7 linked regions of the Homo sapiens genome follow. The protein of the gene in region 1 interacts with the protein of each later gene in a biochemical or structural test. Each region holds a gene or a part of one and is shown in the gene's direction. Other genes may lie near its edges. The genes, in order: UBE2L6, UBA6, RUNX1, UBA1, ITCH, NEDD4L and HERC5.

Region 1 (3,256 bases):
GGAGGAGGGACTGATACTGGGTAGAGATTACTGGAGAGGGGGTTCACAGCTTATTCTGAGCTTGAAAAGCCCCAAAGAGAGGAGATAAAAATTGTGAGTCTTGGCTGAACTTACTATGAGATAGAAGGGATGCTTCCTGGACAGACTGACCTCCTCCTGCCTCTCTTCTTATACCTGTGCAGTTGTGACAGAGGAACGTTGCTGCGGTTCATGGGAGAGGCAGCTTGGCTGCACAGGGAAGGGCTCGGGAAAAGAAAGCCCGCTGTTCCCTCTGTGGACTTTGGGCAAGTTTTCGTTCCTTTCTGGGACTCGGTGTCCTAAATGACAGTGGAGGGAACTGGCCTCATAATGATAATACCTGTCACTTGACTGAGCACTTTCGGCACTGTGCTAAAAACATCACCTGCCGACTTCATTTTTATTTCCCCAACAAGCCCGTGAGGTAGTGTTGTTTAGTAGACCCGGACATCTGAGGCATGTGAGAGGTGAAGTGGTTGCCTAAGGTCATACAGATGACAAACGGCAGCACTTGGCTGACTCGCAAGCCACATGTGGCTGTTGCAACTGAAGAACTCAATTCTTTTTCTTTTTTAAGACAGAGTCTCGCTCTGTCGCCTAGGCTGGAGTGCAGTGGCGCGATCTTGGCTCACTGCAACCTCCACCTCCCAGGTTCAAGCGATTCTCCGGCCTCAGCTTCTTGAATAGCTGGAATTACAGGCGTATGACACCACACCCAGCTATTTTGTATTTTTAATAGAGAGGGGTTTTGCCATGTTAGCCAGGCTGGTCTCGAACTCCTGACCTCAGGCGATCCGCCTGCCTCCGCCTCCCAGAGTGCTGGGATTACAGGTGTGAGTCACTGCGCCTGGCCAGAACTCAATTCTTAATTGTACTTAATTTTAATCCTTTTTGTTTTTTCTACTGAGACACGGTCTGTCTCTATTGCCCAGGCAGTTAGTTCAGTGGCGCAATCTTGGCTCACTGCAACCTCCACCTCCTGGGCTCAAGCCATCCTCCCACCTCAGCCTCCCGAGTAACTGGGACTACAGGAGCATGCCACTATACCTGGCTAATTTTTGCATGCTTTGTAGATACCAGGTTTTGCCATATTGCCCAGGCTGGTCTCAAACTCGTGAGTTCAAGCCATCCACCCATCTTGGCCTCCCAAAGTGGTGGGATTACAGGCGTGAGCCACCGTGCCCAGCCTGATTTTAATTCATTTAAATTTAGATGCCTGCATGTGGCTAATGGCTACCATATTGAACAACACAGCTCTAGAGCCTGTGGCTGAATCAGTGTGCAATCCTCCACCTGGACCAGCTCAGGAGTTTTTAACTCAGGAAATGAAAGTCCTTAGGTTGGTGGGAGTGGGAGCAGGGAGAGGAGTGGTCCTTGGATGAGCTTCAGGGGGTCTGGGAACTGTCTGTTTTGCATGTGGATGTGCACATCTGTCTCGGGAGATGGGCTGCTGCCTTCACTAGGTTCCCAAAGGCATCTGTGAAAGATGAAGAGCCAGGGGGCAGTGGTGGTTTTCAGTCTTTAGCCTTAGACCTCTTTTGCCCAAGGAAAAGTTTATTTGGACTACCAATATAATGGAGGAAAACAGAGCAGTTTTTGTTGAAATGGGGATAAGACCCAGAAACCTCACTTATCTCAGTGGCCCCTGTGATGAGGAGCTTCTCTGAAGCCATGGAATGTAGTTGTTTGAAAACCACTGATGTAATCAGTCAAGGCCTTGGGTGTCACCAGCCAAGAATGAGCGGGGCGTTTGATCTGGTCGTAGAGTAATCCTAAGCGATGTAACCTTTCCCCCAAGGAGTGAGTGTGGAGTGTCAGGACATTGGGAACGGGCAGCCATGACTCCCTTCCCTCTGCCCTGATATCCTGATCTGGCCTGTCTCTCCCCAGTCCTGGAGGCCCTCAATGTGCTGGTGAATAGACCGAATATCAGGGAGCCCCTGCGGATGGACCTCGCTGACCTGCTGACACAGAATCCGGAGCTGTTCAGAAAGAATGCCGAAGAGTTCACCCTCCGATTCGGAGTGGACCGGCCCTCCTAACTCATGTTCTGACCCTCTGTGCACTGGATCCTCGGCATAGCGGACGGACACACCTCATGGACTGAGGCCAGAGCCCCCTGTGGCCCATTCCCCATTCATTTTTCCCTTCTTAGGTTGTTAGTCATTAGTTTGTGTGTGTGTGTGGTGGAGGGAAGGGAGCTATGAGTGTGTGTGTTGTGTATGGACTCACTCCCAGGTTCACCTGGCCACAGGTGCACCCTTCCCACACCCTTTACATTCCCCAGAGCCAAGGGAGTTTAAGTTTGCAGTTACAGGCCAGTTCTCCAGCTCTCCATCTTAGAGAGACAGGTCACCTTGCAGGCCTGCTTGCAGGAAATGAATCCAGCAGCCAACTCGAATCCCCCTAGGGCTCAGGCACTGAGGGCCTGGGGACAGTGGAGCATATGGGTGGGAGACAGATGGAGGGTACCCTATTTACAACTGAGTCAGCCAAGCCACTGATGGGAATATACAGATTTAGGTGCTAAACCATTTATTTTCCACGGATGAGTCACAATCTGAAGAATCAAACTTCCATCCTGAAAATCTATATGTTTCAAAACCACTTGCCATCCTGTTAGATTGCCAGTTCCTGGGACCAGGCCTCAGACTGTGAAGTATATATCCTCCAGCATTCAGTCCAGGGGGAGCCACGGAAACCATGTTCTTGCTTAAGCCATTAAAGTCAGAGATGAATTCTGGAGTGCAGCTGAGTCTTTGATGAGGGGATGGGGTGGTTTCATCAGGACCATAGAGGACTAGGGATTTAAGCATAAATTTCTGACCTTGCTTCCCTTGAATGTTCCCTAAACATCATAAGGAATGTTGGCCATGGAAAAATAGGCCATCCTTGGACAGAGGAGCTTTCAGAAGGTCCACAGGGGTGACGTCCCCATTTTATTTTATTTATTTATTTATTTATTTATTTATTTATTTATTTAAGACAGAATCTCACTCCGTCGCCCAGGCTAGAGTGCAGCAGTGCAATCTCGGCTCACTGCAACCTCCGCCTCCTGAGTTCAAGCGATTCTCCTGCCTCAGTCTCTTGAGTAACTGGGATTACAGATGCCCGCCACCACGCCTGGCTAATTTTTGTATTTTTAGTAAAGATGGGGTTTCACCACATTGGCCAGGCTGGTCTCGAACTCCTGACCTCAGGTGATCCACCCGCCTCAGCCTCCCAAAGTGCTGGGATT
Region 2 (3,500 bases), on another chromosome or scaffold:
TCAGAATCTTTAAGTGCGGCCCTAGTTATTATACCATATTACATCATTACTCTATGTAATTATCTATGAAGCTATGTAGTTATTTACCCCTGTATTAAGTGATTTTAGACTGTTGTTATTTTTTGAGTTACAGCATGTGCTTTCAAAATAGGGAGACTGTATGGTTGAATTAATATTTTTTTAAATAACTGTTAACATGTATAGAGTAGGTTGAAAGTTTGAAAGTATAAAATATACTAAAAGTATACAGACCTGTAATAAGAAATTTATATTACTATAGTCCCATAGCTGCTTTTACTATCCACAGAGAAATGCTTGAAAACGTGAAAGTTGAATAGATGCAATTAAAATCACGGATAGTTTTAGGCTGTTTATATTATCAGATCACCTTCTTTTATCTAGGTTGCCTTGGAGATGATCAAAGTAACTGGTGGCTATCCATTTGAAGCTTACAAAAATTGTTTTCTTAACTTAGCCATTCCAATTGTAGTATTTACAGAGACAACTGAAGTAAGGAAAACTAAAATCAGGTATGTATGAAAGTCTATTTCTCTTGTATAATGAGAATGAAATAAAATATTTTACCTTTTAAAAGGGAAAAATACTAGCTTCACCTCTTTTTTCTTCTATTGTGTATGTGTAAATTTTTGCCATCACTTCAAGATCAGCTCAAACCTCATCTTCATTAAATATTTCTGACTAAAGTAGCCAAAGAACCCTTACAGCACTTTATCTGCCACATTATTTGGCATTATGGTTTCATCTGTGTCTGCCAGATGAATTAGAAGGTACCCTGGTGTCTGACTGTAGGTCATGAGATTTAGAAGAATTCCACAAGCTTGAGACAAAGCAGAACAATTCCTGGGCCTGTACTTTTTAGTTTTCAGATTGGCAACAACCAAAAACTTGAAAAAAAACCTACCTTAACAAGGGTGTGAGAAAGCAGACACTCTCATACATTACTAATGAGAGTACAAAATACTATAATCCACAGTAAGGGATATATAGCACTATATTTCAGATACATTTGCACAAGTCTCAAACTATATATTTGCAAGATAATTATTCTGGCATTATTTATCGTGGCCAATGATTAGAATAACCGAAGTGTCCAGTAATGGGGTACTGGAACATCCACACAGTGAAACCCATTTTAAAAAGAGAGAGACAACACTGTCTTGCTAAAACATACTGATTTATAATACACTGGAAGGATCAGCAAGGTACTGATTAAAAGTGGTTATCTATATGATGTGATGAAGAAATAAGATTATGGAATATTTTAGAAGATATATTATCCTTTATTTCCCCACATTAATTTCTAGCCTGATCACAAATAATGGACTTCTGAAAGTGGGTTTTTTTTGTGTGTGTGTCATCACTAAAAGGAAGAAAATTTCAATGTTTCTGTTCTGAATATTTTTCTGTAACAGAAATGGAATATCATTTACAATTTGGGATCGATGGACCGTACATGGAAAAGAAGATTTCACCCTCTTGGATTTCATAAATGCAGTCAAAGTGAGATACTTTTGTTCATTTAGTTCATTAGTAGCTTTATGTCTGGTTTCTGTTTTGTTTTTATTTATAATTTTATTGGAAGTTATAATTATTTACCATGAATTTGCTTTTTTTACTGGTCATAAAACATTGTTTACGAACAATGTTAAATAAGCATTTTATGTTTGAGCGAGGCTTTCATTGTTTCTTTTTTGGATATTCACTTTTAGGAGAAGTATGGAATTGAGCCAACAATGGTGGTACAGGGAGTCAAAATGCTTTATGTTCCTGTAATGCCTGGTCATGCAAAAAGATTGAAGTTAACGTAAGTATTCAACATTATATGCAGCGATTAACAAGAATTTAAATGTAAGTTGATGCACACTAAAAAATTAAATATAGAGGTTACTATAATTCAGATAAAAGCATTAGTCTTGTCTAATGACATTAATAAAGACAGTGAATCTGCCAGGTGAAGGCCAACAGGCTACCTCTCGAGAGATTCAGCTCTTCAGTTAATAGGTTTAGAAACCTGATTTGGCCAGTACACTTAAGTAAAAGTGGATCCGTCTCTTATGTTGAGACACTTAATGACCAGGCTTATGAGTAATCTAACTGCCAAATCACTATTTTTGTTCATTTATTCAACAAATTATTGTTTAAGGTGCCAGCTGTGTGCCAGGTACTATTCTAGTCATTAGGGAGATAGCAGTTAGCAAACCAAAGTTCTTTCCTACTTAAGGAGTTTGCATAACAATAAGGCAAGTATGTTAGGTGATAGTAAGTATTATGGAGAAATTAAAGAAGAATAAAGAGAAAAGGAAATATGGGGAGTTGGGGGTGTTGAGTTGCTATATTATACTGAGTAGTCTAGGTTTTCCCTTTGCCTATCATAGTCTCACCTGTTAAGGTGGAATTTGAGCAGAGACTGAAAGGAAGAAAGAACCAAAGAAAGCTAAAGTCTTTATCGTGGTCTGCAAGACTCTAAATTTAGATTCCTAGTTATCCTTCTAAGTTCCTTCCTTACTTTCCCTTCACAATATTCCAGCTACACTGGCCTCCTTATTTGTCCTTGAATACTCACTCTAATCATGCTCCAGCATGGGACCTTTGCTTTAGTTGTTCCCTCTGCTTGTAACTCTGAGACAGTGACCTGGCCAAGTCTCACCCCTGGTCTTTGCACTTCCTAAAGAGGCCTCATTTAATACTGCAACCTGTCCTCAGCCCCAGTCTAGTATGTCTAGTCCCCTTTACTCTTCTCTACTTTTTCTTTTTTTCAGAGCACTTATTACTGTCCTATGACTGCTGTGCTGCTGTGTATTTTGCTTATATTTATTGTTTGTTTGTTTTTGAGACGGAGTCTCACTGTGTCGCCTAGGCTGGATTGCAGTGGCGCGATCTCAGCTCACTGCAACCTCTGCCTCCTGAGTTCAAGCGATTCTCCTGCCTCAGCCTCCCGAGTATAGCTGGGATGACAGGCACCCAACACCACACCTGGCTAATTTTTGTATTTTTAGTAGAGACGGATTTCACCATGTTGGCCAGGCTGGTCTTGAACTCCTGACCTAAGGTGATTTCTCCCGCCTCAGCCTCCCAAAGTGCTGGGATTACAGGCGTGAGCCACTGTGCCCGGCCCATGTACTGTATATTAGCTATTTACCTGCTACTAGAACATATATTTCACAAGAGTGGGAATCTTTATTTGATCTTGTCACTGTTGTATCTCAAGCACTTAGATCAATACCTGGCAAATAAAAGGTTACCAACAAATATTTGTCAGACTAGTAAATGAATCTCTGCATGATGGTTGTGTTTAACGTATCTATTGGCTTTAACTATGATAATCAGTTGAGGTTAATCATTCTTAAATTATGATCTAGTCTGAATTATCTGTACCTTAAAAAGTAAAACTACTATTTTATTAGCTAAGGCATTAATTTGCCTTATATTATTTTTCATTAGGATCCCTCAGTATCTTTTGGATCAAGCAAGGCTAGTGT
Region 3 (3,500 bases), on another chromosome or scaffold:
TAATAATCATTAATAATGATTTAAAATGTGTACATTGATTTTTTTTAAATTCCAAAATACAAGCGTATATGGTAAATTAAGTCAAATGGTATGTTCAGTGAGCGAGATGGGCTTGGGGCAAAACAATACTTTGCTTCCAAAGAGGATACAACTCTCAAGGAGATTCTTTCATCTTGCCTTTAAGGTCATTTAAACTAATTCACATAATCTTCAGAAAACTAATTCACATCATCTATTCATGTGTAAAATCAAAAGGAAGACTGTTTTCTTAGTCTCTCGTTGCCTAACTGGCCATTTATACTACTAGGTTGATTAAGGGATTTGCCTTTTTCTGCTGATATGGGAACAAAAAGTCTTAAGCATTTTTAAAGGCAATGGAAAATTCAGCCACATGGGGGAAAATTGATATTGTCACCATTGAGTTGCTCTGTTTCTTGGTGAAGAGTGAATCTAATCTGATTTCCTTCTTCATCAGATATGCCTCTTTAACAACAAAAACAAAAAAATGGGGGGAAGTTGCACATTGAGTTCTCATCCTCTGAAGCTCCTGGGCAAAAGCATTATTGTGGACCGTGTGATGGGCATTCGTCAGCTCTTTGGAGACCTATATGCTTAGTAGAGTATCAGGTTTAACACTAAGCATCGCCCCTTTTTTGTTCCTCTTGAAAACTTTTACTTCTGCAACATTTAAGAAATCATAACTCGCTTTTAGAGTTCCTACGGGCTTGGTTGCTACTCTAAAGAATGTGTGAACTATATTGCTGGTGTTCTTTCTTTCCAAAATATGAATTTGATATTCAGTACTTCACTTGTAAAATTTTAGGAACAACTTTTAAAAAATAAGTATCCAGAATATTTTCATGTGAAACAACTTTTCCTTTTCCTTTTGTTCTTTCTTTCCTATAAGAAAACGCTGTTTTACGCTAATCATGTTTTGAGTAGACCCTTGGGCTTTTTCTCTTGAAATTGGAAAGTTAACAGGTATAATATGCAAGTCTTGTTCAGCCAAGACCTTCAGTTTGTTCTTGACAGTAGGAAAATGCTTATTTTCCAGGCTCAGCCCTGAAATTTCTATGTTATATTTACGAAGATACTTTAAGAAATACAGCATGTGTTTCTGGCTTTCTTTGAAATGGCAGTGGTAGTTTTCAGAAAAATATCCAATTTGTCAGAGTAGTTCCACAGTGGTGCTGTCCAGATGCATGAATGTTTTTCAGCTTTACAGAAATGTCAGTAACCGGGGGTTTGGCGAGCTTGCCGGGATTTATAGAAAGGCTCAGGAACCCTACCTTGCTAGGACTTTGTCAGAAGGGTTATGCCAGCTCCTCTGACTCTGTCAGCAAGAAAATACTGATATAGAATAGCACCAATACTTACCTAGAATCACATGTGCTGGAGGGTCACTCAAAATAGACATCTCAAATTATCTGAAGCACGGTACAGATTGAGAGGGGGCAAGTTGTCATGCCACTAAACCACTGTTTATTTGTTGGGGTCTTAACTATTAAAGGGCTGAGGTTTATTTCAACTTCCTATTTTACCAGGTCTTAAACTGGTAAAGCCATTTTGTCATGAAATAGAATAGAAAGCCATTTTGTCATGAGTAGACCCTTGGGCTACACGTTTCTCCCAGTCAGGACACCATCATTAACTTCTACGATCGAGTCTTAGAATTCTTTTTTAATTTATTTCAAAAGATAGAACAGGGCAGATTCTAGAGCTAGTGGTACCGATGCCTGTTCAGTCACAACTCCCACCTAGAGATGGGTTTGGGCAACCCGAGTGAGTGATTTTAAAATTTCACCCCTGATTGACCAAATATGATGTATCACATTTAAGGTGTCGTAATTTCCTCCTTTCTGGGAATATGAGGATGGAGTAATAGATGCTGGTACAGAAAACTGAAACCTAGATAAACTAGGAAGCCCATTTTGTTGTTCTTCTGCATGCTGGTTGTCATAAGCATGTAGGAAGAAGATTTAACTCTTTAACTGGACCAGTTGTGAGCTATTTTGACGTGGGTCAGACATTTGTACATATTATTCCATTCCCTCAACAATCCTGTGGTATCATTTATAGACAGAGAAATCGAAATTCAGAGGTTAAAAATTGCCCAGTATCTCAAAGATTGTAAGTGATGAACTTGGACGCAAACCCAGACCTTCCTTGCTACAAAGCCAGTGCAAGTGGGATGGCCGTTCCCTGGGCGTGCACTCTTGGGTCAAGGATCGATTTACTACAGGGCTGACCAGTGTCGAGAAGAATCCCAATCACCAAAGGAGGGATGGAAAAAGTGTTGGGCTATCCACTCACTTGGCATTCTTGTATTGAACATGTTCTATTATAATTAGATGTTGATAATAAGAAGAATTTTGGGGCCAGGCTGTGTGGTGGGCACCTTAATAAACTGTCTCCTTTGGTACATGTGCATTTGTTTATAAAGTTTGGGAGAAAAGAAAACTCAGAATAATGAATCTCTAAATAAGAGTGAAAGAGGGGGTATATGAGCAGGGAGAAGGCTTACCAGCCACTCTGTTTACTTTATTGGGGCCATTGCCTTCCTACTTTTGAAGTTCATTGGGACCAAGTGCTTATCATCCAAACCCAGTCAACATCTAATCCACTTTTATGAGTATGCGTGCCTCACTTTGAGTGTTCCATATGGCCAAGAGGGGTCCCTGACCTCTCAAATCATCTCTTGATTTTTAGTATTCCAAGTAACTTCTGTCTTGCTAATTATTTTCCCCCAAAATTAAAGTTACTTAGGAAGGACTATATTCTGGTGCTGCTGTCTGCAAAACTCTGAGATACTGAAATGACCCTGTTTCTCAGTTGTATAGAGTTATTTAAGTCCGTCTGATTCTCTCTTTATCATCTGGATAGACAAAAGGAAGAAAACCTTTCCACCTTCCTGTAGGAGAAGGAGATAAATCCTCTTTCCAGCCTTGGAGGTAAAATATCCAACTGCATTGCATTGCTTTCCTTTCTCTCTCCCTCTCCTTCCCTCTCTTCCTTACTCTTCTAGCAATTTGAAGTTTGAAAACAAAGGGAGTAGGGACTATTTGATTACCTTGAAAGTGGAGGCTACAATCAAACACCAGAAATCCTCATATGTGAATCTATAAATGGTCATTTAATGGTTACACAAAGTAACATATTCAGAATGTGAGAAATTAATTTATATAATAGGCTATAAACATGACAGGTGAATGATTTCATTTAAAAATAGCTTTTAACAAGGTGTAGTAGGGTATGAGAGCCTTTCCAGGTCTATAGCATTATAATCTTACCCCGACAACAAGCCTGAATCAGGTGTTCACAGGAATAAATAAAAATAATTAAAGGAAAGAAGGGAGAGAGAGAGAAGAAATGAAAACCAGTGGGATGACTGCAGAGATTCACTGCAGGGCTTGATCTTAGTGATGAAATATTTCTTCTGTAGACTGCATATGTTCTGAACTTTCCCCTTATGCTTGTAAATATGTAGGCCAGCACACCCA
Region 4 (2,400 bases), on another chromosome or scaffold:
CTCCATCCCTTAGCTCACAAGCTCAGGAGCGCCGTTCTGGTCTGGGCCCAAACGCTGTCCACACCCGCTCACCTTTGATGTCAACAATGTAAGTCTCCTTTCTAGGGTCTTCTGGGGTCAGGTGGAGGGTGAATAGGTGGGAAGGAGGTGGCGGCTCCCCACTCGAGGGCTGATGTGCTCACCCTTCCCTGCCCTGCCTTCTCCTAGCCCCTGCATCTGGACTATGTGATGGCTGCTGCCAACCTGTTTGCCCAGACCTACGGGCTGACAGGCTCTCAGGACCGAGCTGCTGTGGCCACATTCCTGCAGTCTGTGCAGGTCCCCGAATTCACCCCCAAGTCTGGCGTCAAGATCCATGTTTCTGACCAGGAGCTGCAGAGCGCCAATGCCTCTGTTGGTGAGGGTGTTTGGCCAGTTGGCCAGGAGTCACCCCACATGTCCCCGGCCTAGTCCAGCCTCCCCACCAGTCCTCTACCCCTGGTTCTGCTCTGCTCTGTGACCCCAGGCCTGAGGTTTACCCACACCTTCCTTTGAGCCTCCCTTTGACATGAAGAGGGTAGGTTGGGGCAAATTATCTCCCTCCCTCCTCCTCCTTCCCACTATCTGGCCCTCAGGAGAACTTGCTGTTTTACTCTTGCTCTGTGTATTTCCCTTAGTTTTGTTCTTTCTTCTGTTTCTTCTTGATCTGTTCATCTAGGAGGTATGATCTCTACCAGCAGTCTCTCTCCCTTGATACTTTCCTGCCTTGTCTCCTTCCAGATCCGCCCCCATCTGTACATCTACCTGCATGTTTCTCTGTGCATCTTCACCCTCCATAGTTTGGGGCTGCGGTTTACTGACACCCCCACCCCACCCCATCTGCATATTTTTTCACCACCCCTCCCTTCTGTATATGATGCTTCTGTAGCTCTGTAACGCCCCCTACATTTACCTTCCTTATATCTCCCCCGTCTTCCTCTCCATAGATCTCCTCCCATTTCCCCTTCCATGGTCCCCATCTTCCTTCTGAAATGTCTACTCCTTCATGTTCCTTTATGTATGTCTTCCAATCTTTCCTTCCATAGCTCTCATCACCTTCATATATTTCTTCCATCTTTCTCCTCCCACCTGCCTCGCCCTCTGTATATACCCCCACTCTCCCCCTTTTATATCTTCTCCATCTCCCCCCATATCTTTCCTCTATGTCCACATCTGTGTATTCCCCCCAACTTCCCCTCCATATATCTTTTTTACTCCCCTTTTCCTCCCTGTATCCTCTGTGTTCCCCCCATCTTGCTCTACATCATTCTTCCCAAGATCTTTACGTCTCCCATCTTGATCTCTCCATCTCCACTTTCTCCTAACATTTTCATTTCCGTTCCTTAGTGTCTCTAGAGAGATCATTCTTGATAGCCTCAGCTCTTTCTCTGTGTTTTTCAGGTTTGTATTCTGCTCTGCTCTACCTCTCCTCCTTGCCCCTTTTCTCTCCCAGGATGTCTCTCCTTTCCAAATCCTTTTTGTACCTGAATACCTTTTGCCCCACCCTGGGCTCTCATTTCCATCTCAGACCTTAGCCTGGGATCTAAAGGGCTGACAGTGTCCCTTTCTTCATGCAGATGACAGTCGTCTAGAGGAGCTCAAAGCCACTCTGCCCAGCCCAGACAAGCTCCCTGGATTCAAGATGTACCCCATTGACTTTGAGAAGGTATGGGGTGGGGCTCAGGACAGGGAAGGAGGATGGGCAAAGCATAGACAGGCTGGAGAAAACAGGAGTATCTGGAGCCAGCCCCGGGCCTTTGTGGGGATCAGATTGTGGGCCTGCCATATGGCTCTGAATGAGTAGGTGTTCCCAGCCATCCCTTTGTGATCTGGGAGAGTCCAGCAGGCAATTGCAGTGGAGGATACACATCTTCTTTATCTGATCCTCTCCCCACTGCCTTCACACCCTCCCCACTCATAACAGGATGATGACAGCAACTTTCATATGGATTTCATCGTGGCTGCATCCAACCTCCGGGCAGAAAACTATGACATTCCTTCTGCAGACCGGCACAAGGTGAGGGGAATCTAAATCTGATGTTCCACCCTCCTCCAGGTTTGAGTTACCCACACTTAGCCCCTCTGTAGACCCTGAGGCTCTTGTACTTAACTACCACCTTCTTTTGTCCCTTCTGTCTCTCAGAGCAAGCTGATTGCAGGGAAGATCATCCCAGCCATTGCCACGACCACAGCAGCCGTGGTTGGCCTTGTGTGTCTGGAGCTGTACAAGGTTGTGCAGGGGCACCGACAGCTTGACTCCTACAAGAATGGTTTCCTCAACTTGGCCCTGCCTTTCTTTGGTTTCTCTGAACCCCTTGCCGCACCACGTCACCAGGTGGGGGCCTGCATCCGAAGCAGGGTTTGGGTGGGGTGTATCTGTGT
Region 5 (3,500 bases), on another chromosome or scaffold:
CTCACCCAGTCACGCAGGATGGAGTGCAGTGACAGGACCTCCAGAGCTCAAGTGATCTTCCCACCCCAGCCTCCCTGAGTAGCTGGGACAACAGGCATGCATTAGCATGCCTGGCTAATTTTTAAAATTTTTTTGTAGAGAAAGGTTCTCTTTACGTTGCCCAGTCTGGTCTTAACTCCTGTGTTCAAGTGGTCCTCCCACCTTGGCCTCCTAAAGTGTTGGGATTACAGGTGTAAGCTACTGTGCTCTGGCTAAAAATTTTAAGTATAATGCTAAAAATTTGGAATTTTATGTTGGTAGAAATAGATACAGGGCTGGGCTCAGTGCCTCACACCTGTAATCTCAACAGTTTGGGAGGCTGAGGCGGGTGAATCGCTTGAGCTCAGGAGTTTGAGACCAGCCTGGGCAACATGGTGATATCCCGTCTTTACCAAAAGGAAGGAAAAAAAAAAGAAATAGATGCAGATTTTTCGACAGGGAAATGATGTGAGTACATATGTGTTTTAGAAAATTGCTGTGTACTGCAGGACAAAGATAGGTATCAAAAAACAAAAAAAGAAAGATTGCTCTGGTGATGAGCGAAAGGATGAGGGACTAGCTATTGCAGAAGTCTAGTTGAGAAATGACAAAGCCTGACCTTGGAGAGAGGTTGTGGGGATGATCAAAGGATTGGATTTAGCTTTTTACTAGTGCAATATTGTTGCCATATTTCTAGATGAGGATTTTTTTTTAGAGCTAATCTGGGTAAAGGGCTCCTTTTCTGTCAAAAGAACCCATTAGCAAGTCTGAATAATATTGCCAGGTTATATATGTTATGTATAGTATGAGAGTGAATTGTTCATTAGCATCTTTGAGAAATTAGAAAGAACTATGTCAGGTGTAATTTGGAAGAGAACTTGAAGTTTGTTATTGTTACTATTTTTGAGATGGAGTCTTGCTCGGCCATGCAGGCTGGAGTGCAGTGATGTGATCTCGGCTCACTGCAACCTCCACCTCCCGGGTTCAAGCGATTCGTGTGCCTCAGCCTCCCAAGTAGCTGCCTCCCAAGTAGCTGGAATTAGAGGTGCATGCCACCAAGCCTGGCTAATTTAGAACTTGGAGTTTGGACTGAAATTTATGCCTCTAAAAAGTATTGATCTAGGCTTGTTGGGAGTGTTTTTCTCTCAGCCTGTAGAAACTTGCTCATTGAGTTTTAGAGTTGGGAGAAGTTACAGAGATTATCTAGTCCATAATGGCAAATATATTTTGGTTTATTGGCCAGCTCTAATTGGAAGCTGCCAGAAGCACTGTGTTTGGAAGGATTCTGGTTGTAGGTGCTCTGAGAAATTGTATTATGGTTGATCAATGATGTCTCCTGTGGACAGTTACCTAGTAGGTAGTAGACATGTGCCAAATATATGCTATTCTTAGATAAGTCCAATCTCTTAGTTTTCTGTTTTGTTGTTGTTTGTTTGTTTTAAAGGTTAAATAATTTACCTGAAACTAGTTAAGAGTAAGAACTAGAACTAGAACTGGGTTTTGCAACTCTGGGACTGGTATTCTCTGGTTTACAAAGATCAATGTGCACTACTGAAGAGCTTCTGGTATTAGACTAGAAAAAGAAAAGGGAGATTTTTAGCCTATGCGTCTTGACTGTTTAGGCAAGAGTTTAACAAGGAATTTTGGCCTAGAAGTAAGTTTTGTTATATTCATTCTGTCTTAAGAAATTTGTGTTAGGGCCGGGCGCGGTGGCTCATGCCTGTAATCCCAGCATTTTGGGAGGCTGAAGCGGGCAGATCACGAGGTCAGGAGATCGAGATCATCCTGGCCAACGTGGTGAAACCCCCATCTCTACTAAAATACAAAAAATTAGCTGGGTGTGGTGGCATGCACCTGTAGTACCAGCTACTTGGGAGGCTGAGGCAGGAGAACCACTTGAACCTGGGAGGCGGAGGTTGCAGTGAGCTGAGATTGTGCCACTGCACTCCAGCCTGGCAACAAGAATGAGACTCTGTCTCAAAAGAAAAAAAAAAAAAAATTCGTGTTAGTACTGATAGGAAATAGTCATCTGTTTTGTTGTTTTGCCACTTTCTTTCTTGTTGCCTAAGTCTCTGTTTTGGGTTTTGGACATTGGTTTCCTTTATAAGAATTAAGACAAAAGTATGTAAGGTTTTTTTTTTTGTATTTATAGTACTTAGCCAAATTCTGGGCTCATAATAAGCACTCAGTAAAGGCATGTTGACTTTTATGGCTGTAAATGATACTGGCTTTGAGTCAATATAAATTAGTTAGGGGGTTCACAGAATTGAATTGCAGCATTCTCTGGTTGGGAGGTTGGCTTTCAGCTAAAAACGTTAAGTTGGAAACTATCCTCACAACTAGAAGCAGTTAACCAGAAGCTGTTCCTGCCTCTATCCTCCTCCAGTCTAGCAGTGTACTGTCCTTGAAAAACTGCTGCCAGCTCAGCTTTTTTGCTTCTTTTCAGAACTGACTATATCCAGATCCTTGGTGTGCGTTTTCTTTTCCTGTCCCTAGGAGTCTCCAAGTTGCAGGGACTATCATTATGGTGACCCTTATAGGCTGGTGTATTTATATGGCCATCCTCATTTTGCCAGATAGCCGTCATACTCAGATTGGTGTCTTCCCATAATACGTATGAATCATTTTCCCTCAGTTCTTTCTTTTGTCCTGTCTGCTCCATTAAAAATTGTCTATCCCATGAAATTTTTAAAAGAGACTTTGTGCTTTTAGAGTCGCAAGGTCGTTGCAGATCTGATGTGTTTAACTATAGAGGTCAGCTGGGTGTGGTGGCTCACGCCTGTAATCCCAGCACTTTGGGAGGCTGAGGTGGGTGGATCACGAGGTCAGGAGTTCAAGACCAGCCTGACCAATATGGTGAAACCCCATCTCTACTAAAAATACGAAAGTTAGCCAGGCGTGGGGGTGCACGCCCGTAGTGTAGTCCCAGCTACTCAGGAGGCTGAGGCAGAAGAATCGCTTGAACCCAGGAGGCGAAGGTTGGAGTGAGCCAATATCATGCCACTGCACTCTAGCCTGGCGACAGAGCAAGACTCCATCTCAAAAACAAACAAACAAAAAAATATAGAAGTAATGTGTTAATGGACTCTCCTTCCTTTCTCAGGTACCATGCATTTCACGGTGGCCTTGTGGAGACAACGCCTTAACCCAAGGAAGTGACTCAAACTGTGAGAACTTCAGGTATGGTGTCATCCTGTGAGAGAAATTGGGGGCAAGAGTGATGCAGAGGCCAAGCTCTGGTCTTATACCTGCTGTGAGGAGAGAGCAGTGTTGATGCTAGCTGCATCAGTTGGTTGAACATATAGGCAGCTTCACTTGGTTCTGAAACCCAAAGCTGCCTCTGCAGGGATTAGCCTGTGAGCCACACTGTGCTCTTAATTTGGGTTTTCTGACTTTTCTGTTTTTGTAGATCCCTTATACATATGCATACTTTTTCTATTTGTGTTGTTTTATACACGTTTATCTCTGTATACTATCTAGAC
Region 6 (3,500 bases), on another chromosome or scaffold:
ATTTTGACCGCTATTTAGAAGAGTGACCTCATAAATCTTTTAGCAAAGTAGACACACATACCTACCACATTTCTTAAAAGTAGATTCGTATTTTGATTTGAGATTGTTGAAAAGCATGGTATGTTTGGAGTGCACTTAGTTATGTCCCATCTCATAAAGACTGTTGAGCTCTCTGCACTGCTGATGATGAAGCATTGCATGAACCCAGAAAACGGGGATGCCAAAGCACAGGGCTTAGGTGCTGTTCCTTGCGTCATCAGCAGAGGTCTGTCCACTTTGTAGAAGGTAAGGGGTTGAGATGTGGGCTTTGCTTGTGTGAATGTATGTGCTGTTTAATTTTTTCTGTGTGTTTCGGGCGGAGGTTTCTCTGGTGAGTTATAATTCATATTTACCCTGATTTAAGTCATGTCACTTTAGGTAGCCAGATTCAAAACCATCAGATGAAGGACTTTTGGTGTTAGAGGGATTAGCAGTTTAACAAAACTTCTGATTCATGGCCCAAGATCAGATTTGGTTTGGAATCAGAACACTTTGGACTAGTTTCTGCATCTGGCTTGAGTCCTTGTGGATTTCTTGTTTTATTTCTTTATTTTTGGCAATCTGTAGTGCATTTTGGCATAGTTTACTTATGAATGTTACCGCTAACTTTCTGAAATCTTTTATTCCATTTTAGAAAGGTATCATTTATTGAAAAGATTTTTCTACTGAACAAAATACTGGGATTGAATGGCAGCTTCTTATCACATTAGATATGACATTAAGTAATTTCGTTAGTAGTTAAAATGAAGCAAATGGCATAGAAATGAAGGCCAGGCTGACATAGGATAAATGGCACCTTCTCTCCTTATCCTGTACAAACACGGATAGTTGGCTACTTTTGAATGCCTCTTCTATACCAATGGTAAAAATCCGGCTTAATTGGGGCCACATTCTAGCCTAGTCACAATCAGTGGCTTGCATTATGTCCTTTGAGATGTGGCAGATCTGCTTATAGGTGCCAGTCACCACGGCTCCCTGCTGGCTTGGGGGTCTTTCTACTCATTTACATATAATTATCTACTTCTTAATCAACCATTAAGGTTAACTTTTGGCATGGATCCTGTATGCTTTTCAGTTTAAGATGCTGTCACTTTTAAGATGCGCCATGAGAGCAAAGTGCTAAGCCTTGTGCACATACTATGTCATTTAGTTCTCATGAGAACTGTGTGAGGTAGGCTGTGATTTACAGATGAGGAATGAAAGCTCAAAGAGGTTACGTGACCTGCATAAGGACACAAAACAAGTTAAGTTATGGAGCCAGCTATTTTGAATAGAAAGGCCTAGTTTTTAACATGCTGAATATCCTCCCCTTCTGACAAATGCCTTGAAAGGTCTTACTATCTAGATTATTTAAGATAATGTAAGAGAAATAAACACCACTGGTTGCAAACTGATGGCTGCTGGGCCCGATTTGACCAGGAACCCTGCTTAATGTGGTCTCTAGAGTGTTTTAAAGCTTGGAAATTTCATGAAAATGGTAAAAATCTGGCTTAATTGGGGCCACATTCTAACCTAGTTACAGTCAGTGGCTGGCATTATGTCCTTTGAGATGTGGCAGCTAGTTGTGCTATGGTTGCAGTCACCACTACTTTCTGTTGTCTTAGGGGTCTTTCTACTTGTTTACATATAATTATCCACTTCATAACAAACCTTTAAGGCTAACCTTTGGCGTGGATGCCATATTTCTTTCACTTTAGTGTGCTGTCACTTTTAAGATATGCCATTATTTCATGTACCACGAAGAAAAAATTGCTGTCAAGTTATGACATACTGTCCATCTTATGAAGCATCCTTATTTCAGAGAAGTTGAAATATGAGAAAAAGGATATTTTAGAATTGATGAATTACAGTGACTAGAAACCTGGGAAAACTCCATGCCATCAGTTTCAATATCCCCAATCATTCAGTACTTTTAAGTCAACGAGTAGTCAGATTTCTGCTTTTCTGTGTTTGAGGAAAGTGCTAGAAAAAGAGAAGTGCTCTTAAATAGGCATTAGCACAGAAGGAACTGGGGGCCTAGATCATAGCCAACTGGATGGCCGTCTGTAAGTGATTAAGAATAGTTGTTAGTTTTTAAAAAGTGGCCTGTGTGTATTTTCAAGAGATTACTTGGGAAACCCTATGTGCCATCTTTGCAGCTGTGCAAAACGGTGAGGACAAGATTGCTTTCAAAAATTGTGGTTTAGATTTTGCTTGGATCTCAAGGTGAATGCTGACAGGCCGTTTTCTGAAGAGAGAGAAGGCTTGCCCAGTCATGCCAAGTCCAAGTGCCTGTGTCGGGCCTAGATGCTGGATGGTAGACTGTATACCCAGGACATATAGGTAATGTTTGAGAAACAAATGTTAAAAGGACCTAGTTTTCATGGTGACATTTAAAATCAGTTTTTAAAATTCATGAATATAACATGTTGTTTTAAAATTTGATTATAGGGACCGGGTGCAGTGATCACTCCTGTAATCCTAGCATTTTGGGAGGCCGAGGCAGGAGAATCACTTGAGTTCAGGAGTTTGAGGCCAGGCTGGGCAACGTGGTGAAACCCCGTCTCTACAAAAAATAGAAAAGTTAGCCAAACATGGCGGCACGTGCCTGTAGTCCCAGCTACTTGGGAGGCTGAGGTGGAAGGATCACTTAAACCTGGAGGCAGAGGTTGCAGTGAGCCAAGATCATGCCACTGCACTCTAGCCTGGGCGACAGAGTGAGACCCTGTCTCCAAAAAAAAAAAAAAAAAAAAAAAGACTAATGAATAGAATTTATTTTCTTCAATGATGTAGTGTCTGTGGAATTTGTAGACATTGACATTTGAATTTTCATTATATTTAGTTTTATTAAATCAGAATGTTATGATTGTTTATTTCATTATTGAACATCAGTTTCCTTAATTTAAGGAATAAAAATAATTTTGCTCAGGCCAGACATAGTGGCTCACATCTGTAATCCCAGCACGTTGGAGGCCAAGGCTGGTGGATCACTTGAGGTCAGGAGTTTGAGACCAGCCCAGCCAACATGGTGAAACCCTGTCTCTACAAAATAAATAAATAAATAAATGAAAAAAAAATCAGCTGGGTGTGGTGGTGGACACCTGTAATCCCAGCTACTCTGGAGGCTGAGGCAGGAGAATAGCTTGAACCCTGAAGGCAGAGATTGCAGTGAGCCGAGATCGCACCACTGCACTCCAGACTGGGTGACAGAGTGAGACTCTGTCACAATAATAACAGGCTGGGGCAGTGGCTCATGCCCGTAATCCCAGCACTTTGGGAGGCCGAGGCTGGAGGATCACCTGAGGTCAGGAGTTTGAGACCAGCCTGGCCAACATGGTGAAACTCCGTCTTTACTAAAAATACAAAAATTAGCTGGGCTTGGTGGCAGGCAACTGTAATCCCAGTTACTCGGGAGGCTGAGGCAGGAGAATTGCTTGAACCTGGGAGGCAGAGGTTGCAGTGAGACAAGTTCGGGCCATTGT
Region 7 (3,500 bases), on another chromosome or scaffold:
AGATGGACAACTGGGAAATGGTGGAACACGTGACCAGCTGATGCCGCTTCCAGTGAAAGTATCATCAAGTGAAGAACTCAAACTTGGTAAATTCTATAGGAACATAGGGTTTGGCATAGTATCTTTTTAGAGAAAATGATTTTTCTAACTAGGTAATGTGGCAAAGAAAGCAACATATGACTATGAAGGGAGTTTCTCTAAATACTGGTTTCATTTTTTACTGGTAAACAATTCAAGAGTCAGTCTAATTTACTGAGGCAAAATAATTATTCTATATTACTCCTTCAGATTAGGATTAATGTGAATTTAAATGATAAAATAGACAATGGATTCAGAGGCATATGCAGCTCTCATTCCAGTTTGCAAGAGACTTACTAATTCTTGTAATTAGTTGTTTACTAATTCTTGTAATTGGCTGGTTGCCCTGGTTAAGTTGATCCACAGTCATATAAAACCCTCAGAATAATGAGCAATCAACGTATACCTGGCACTGAACTGTGCTCAGCACTTACTTGTGTTATCTCACCAATCCTTGTAACAGTTCCTGGGAGGTGTATTCTGTCACTCCTCTTTTACTGGAGGATAAAGAGACTTGGAGAGAAAAGGGTTAGCCACTTAATCATGGCCAGTAAGTGGTTTGTCTGGAGTTGAACCCGTGCCCTTTATGACCTCAGAGTCTGAGCTCTGAAACACTCCATTGTAGAAGCACCTTGGAGCATTTCTGTTACTTGTTTCTGAAAGCTTAGTGGTGACCTCAAGTAACAAAATCTACTCATTTCTTGTAGGAAAACGAACAGAGTTATTTCCTTAAGCAGCATGTATTATCTTTGATTCCTTATAACAGTTACATGGGCTTAAAGTACTTATATTCTTTATAGCCAGCAGTCATTGCTTAAATCTTGAAAACATGGTTTTTAGTAATGGGAGTTGAATTAAACTGATAACATTTAGCTAATCAAATATTTGCATTTTATATATAAATATTTGTATTATGTATATTAAACTGATGTCACATGTCCACCTTGTGAATTACCTATGTTTGCCAACTAGACTTTACTCCAAAGGATATGTATTTCAGCTGCTTAATTGGCAGAAAATGTACTAAGTTTTGTCTATTAAGAAGAAAAGATGACTACGTTTAAGAAGAATCTGAAGTTATTTAAATTGAACATGCATGTTTGTGCCAAATGACTTTCTAAAACTCTTACTCTTTGTGCATCCTTTCAGAAAGCCATACCTCAGAAAAGGAGTTAATAATGATTGCTGGAGGGAATCAAAGCATTTTGCTCTGGATAAAGAAAGAGGTAAAAATAGATCTCCAGGTGTTCTATAACCTGGTATTTTAAGCAAAACTAAGGGTTCTAGTATCCCAGTTTGGTGAATTCCAAAATCATCAGTTTACCAGGCTGACTTTTTGGGGGATAGCTGGACATTACTGATCCTTTATTGTCTAAACTACATCAGTATTTTCCCACAAAAATCAGCAGATTTTTCTCTGGTGAATGTCTAATCAGTGTGATTTCCATAGGCTATACTTACCTTTTGGGGGCTACTTGCCAATGATGTTTGGTCAGTATCCTTGCAAACAACAGAGTGACAGATTCTAAAAATGACTTTGCAGGCCAGTACTAAGAAAGACACCAAGGTTCATGGGCTTGCAAATAAAAAGTCCATAACTTCCCTGCCCTACTTCACCAAGTGAAATCGAGTTCCTCACACTTCTGCACACAGCTCTTTCAGGATCTTCCCTTCCCTTCAAGGCTGTCTGATGTTCAGTTTAATTTGATTGTATTTGTATAAAGTGCTGAGTGTTGAGTCCTCAAAGAAATTTACTTTCAGTCTAAGCCCCCTTGGACAAGAAAGTGGCAACCAGGCAAATGATTGATTACTTATTTGTTGAGTATCACTTTGTGATTGTCCCAGGGCTGTATTACACATATTTAAAAGTCAGTTTTACTCTCTAGAGTGTACCTAAAAGTTGGGTGCCTATCTCTGATGTGTCTAAATTATTGTATTTTACTTTCCTGTTTGTTTACAGAATTCATATGTTAATCTGAAGAGGACAATTCCTACTCTGAATGAAGGGACTGTAAAGAGATGGATTGCTGATGTGGAGACTAAACGGTGGCAGAGCACAAAAAGGTACACCCCACAGTCTGACTCTCTGCTTATATATCACTCTCAAGTATCATTTCCCAAACTGGTTCTGCACAGCAATATGAGATTTTGTAGTCAGGGTTTTCCAGAGAAACAAACTCATAGGATATGTGTGTATTTCTGTCTCTATCTTTATCTCTATCATGTCTGTCTGTCCATCTATGTATCTATGGAGGGGAGAGAGAGAGATTATTTTAAGGAATTGGCTTATGAGATTGTAGGGGCTGGCAAGTCCAAAATCTGTAGGGCAGGCCAGCAGGCTGGAGACTTGGGGAGGAGTTGATGTTGCAGCTCAAGTCTGAAGGCAATCTAAAAGCAGAATTTCCTCTTCTTTGGGTGACCTCAGCCTTTTCTCTTAAGGCCTTCAACTGGATGAGGCTCACTCACATTATGGAAGGTCCTTTCTTTTTATTCACTTGTTCAAGTGCTTTACTCAGTTTACCATTTTAAATGTTAATCTCATCTAAAAAAATACTTTCATAGAAACATCCAGAATAATATTTGACCAAATATCTTGGTACCATGGCCTAGCCAAGTTGACATATAAAACTAACCCATCACAACTAGCATGTAAGCGCCATGAGGACAGCTTTCTTTACTGTAGGGCTTCTCCAGGCCTCTGTTTATGTATATTGTGACTCTCTGGCCAGAAAATAGAGTCTATAGTGTTTCCCAGTCCCATTTGATCCTGGAACCATTAGTTTGTGTACCTGTTATTCTTAGCTGAACAATTTGTACCATTCTTCTCTAAACCATAGAACTCCTATAGGTTTACAGAACTCCTACCTATTCTTACAAACATCATCTTTTAGAAATATTTTTAGGTATGGCTTTCTAATTCTGGAAAATGATTGTACAAAGTAGTTGCACAAAATAGTTGCATCATAATTTGCAGAGCATAAATAATTAAGAACTGTACAACTACTTCTAAGATGAAACTGAGCATACTCCTTCCCCCATTTAATTTCTGGTAATTTATTTCTACTTCAGTGGAATAGAAATAAATAGGACTTGCATAGTTGGTGGGGTGGGAGTATTTTGTTTGTTCAAGAAAGTTCTGACCATAAATCAAGCCTTTCCTCTTTATTTGAGGCTTCTCTGAGTATGTATAAACTTTTTTATTTCCCATGTTTGCCACTGAAATTTTGAGATTTACCAAACAGAATGGACTTTTAGAAGCCAAGCCAAGGTAATATGCATACAGATAGGAGACAAATGGAGAGGTTGGAAGGATAGTTATAAGATGTGGTATTTATCATGTCTCATGCTGTAAAGAAAGAGGCTGTATGTATGTATACCATGTGATTTGGTTTAACCAGTGTCTTATTACTAATATAGGGAAA

Evidence for each region.
Region 2: of the proteins of UBE2L6 (region 1) and UBA6, one has a biochemical effect on the other in vitro, tested with the Homo sapiens proteins (one study listed by BioGRID).
Region 3: the proteins of UBE2L6 (region 1) and RUNX1 form a complex in vitro, tested with the Homo sapiens proteins (one study listed by BioGRID).
Region 4: of the proteins of UBE2L6 (region 1) and UBA1, one has a biochemical effect on the other in vitro, tested with the Homo sapiens proteins (2 studies listed by BioGRID).
Region 5: the proteins of UBE2L6 (region 1) and ITCH interact in a test that uses a peptide from one of them, tested with the Homo sapiens proteins (one large-scale study listed by BioGRID and IntAct).
Region 6: the proteins of UBE2L6 (region 1) and NEDD4L form a complex in vitro, tested with the Homo sapiens proteins (one study listed by BioGRID).
Region 7: the proteins of UBE2L6 (region 1) and HERC5 form a complex in vitro, tested with the Homo sapiens proteins (one study listed by BioGRID).

Annotation. Positions count from the first base shown.
Region 1 is NC_000011.10:57,551,162-57,554,417, reverse strand, and holds the end of UBE2L6 (ubiquitin/ISG15-conjugating enzyme E2 L6), read left to right. Parts: intron 1-1,908; coding exon 1,909-2,060; 3' UTR 2,061-2,756; downstream 2,757-3,256. UniProt on the Homo sapiens protein: Catalyzes the covalent attachment of ubiquitin or ISG15 to other proteins. Functions in the E6/E6-AP-induced ubiquitination of p53/TP53. Promotes ubiquitination and subsequent proteasomal degradation of FLT3.
Region 2 is NC_000004.12:67,621,156-67,624,655, reverse strand, and holds part of UBA6 (ubiquitin-like modifier-activating enzyme 6), read left to right. Parts: intron 1-402; coding exon 403-530; intron 531-1,433; coding exon 1,434-1,521; intron 1,522-1,730; coding exon 1,731-1,825; intron 1,826-3,500. UniProt on the Homo sapiens protein: Activates ubiquitin by first adenylating its C-terminal glycine residue with ATP, and thereafter linking this residue to the side chain of a cysteine residue in E1, yielding a ubiquitin-E1 thioester and free AMP.
Region 3 is NC_000021.9:34,829,303-34,832,802, reverse strand, and holds part of RUNX1 (runt-related transcription factor 1), read left to right. Parts: intron 1-3,500.
Region 4 is NC_000023.11:47,210,829-47,213,228, forward strand, and holds part of UBA1 (ubiquitin-like modifier-activating enzyme 1), read left to right. Parts: intron 1-13; coding exon 14-88; intron 89-207; coding exon 208-397; intron 398-1,595; coding exon 1,596-1,684; intron 1,685-1,942; coding exon 1,943-2,035; intron 2,036-2,161; coding exon 2,162-2,353; intron 2,354-2,400. UniProt on the Homo sapiens protein: Catalyzes the first step in ubiquitin conjugation to mark cellular proteins for degradation through the ubiquitin-proteasome system.
Region 5 is NC_000020.11:34,366,273-34,369,772, forward strand, and holds part of ITCH (E3 ubiquitin-protein ligase Itchy homolog), read left to right. Parts: intron 1-3,121; 5' UTR 3,122-3,198; intron 3,199-3,500. UniProt on the Homo sapiens protein: Acts as an Acts as an E3 ubiquitin-protein ligase which accepts ubiquitin from an E2 ubiquitin-conjugating enzyme in the form of a thioester and then directly transfers the ubiquitin to targeted substrates.
Region 6 is NC_000018.10:58,047,226-58,050,725, forward strand, and holds part of NEDD4L (E3 ubiquitin-protein ligase NEDD4-like), read left to right. Parts: exon of another isoform or gene 1-285; intron 286-3,500. UniProt on the Homo sapiens protein: E3 ubiquitin-protein ligase that mediates the polyubiquitination of lysine and cysteine residues on target proteins and is thereby implicated in the regulation of various signaling pathways including autophagy, innate immunity or DNA repair.
Region 7 is NC_000004.12:88,467,119-88,470,618, forward strand, and holds part of HERC5 (E3 ISG15--protein ligase HERC5), read left to right. Parts: coding exon 1-86; intron 87-512; exon of another isoform or gene 513-588; intron 589-1,227; coding exon 1,228-1,304; intron 1,305-2,038; coding exon 2,039-2,142; intron 2,143-3,495; coding exon 3,496-3,500.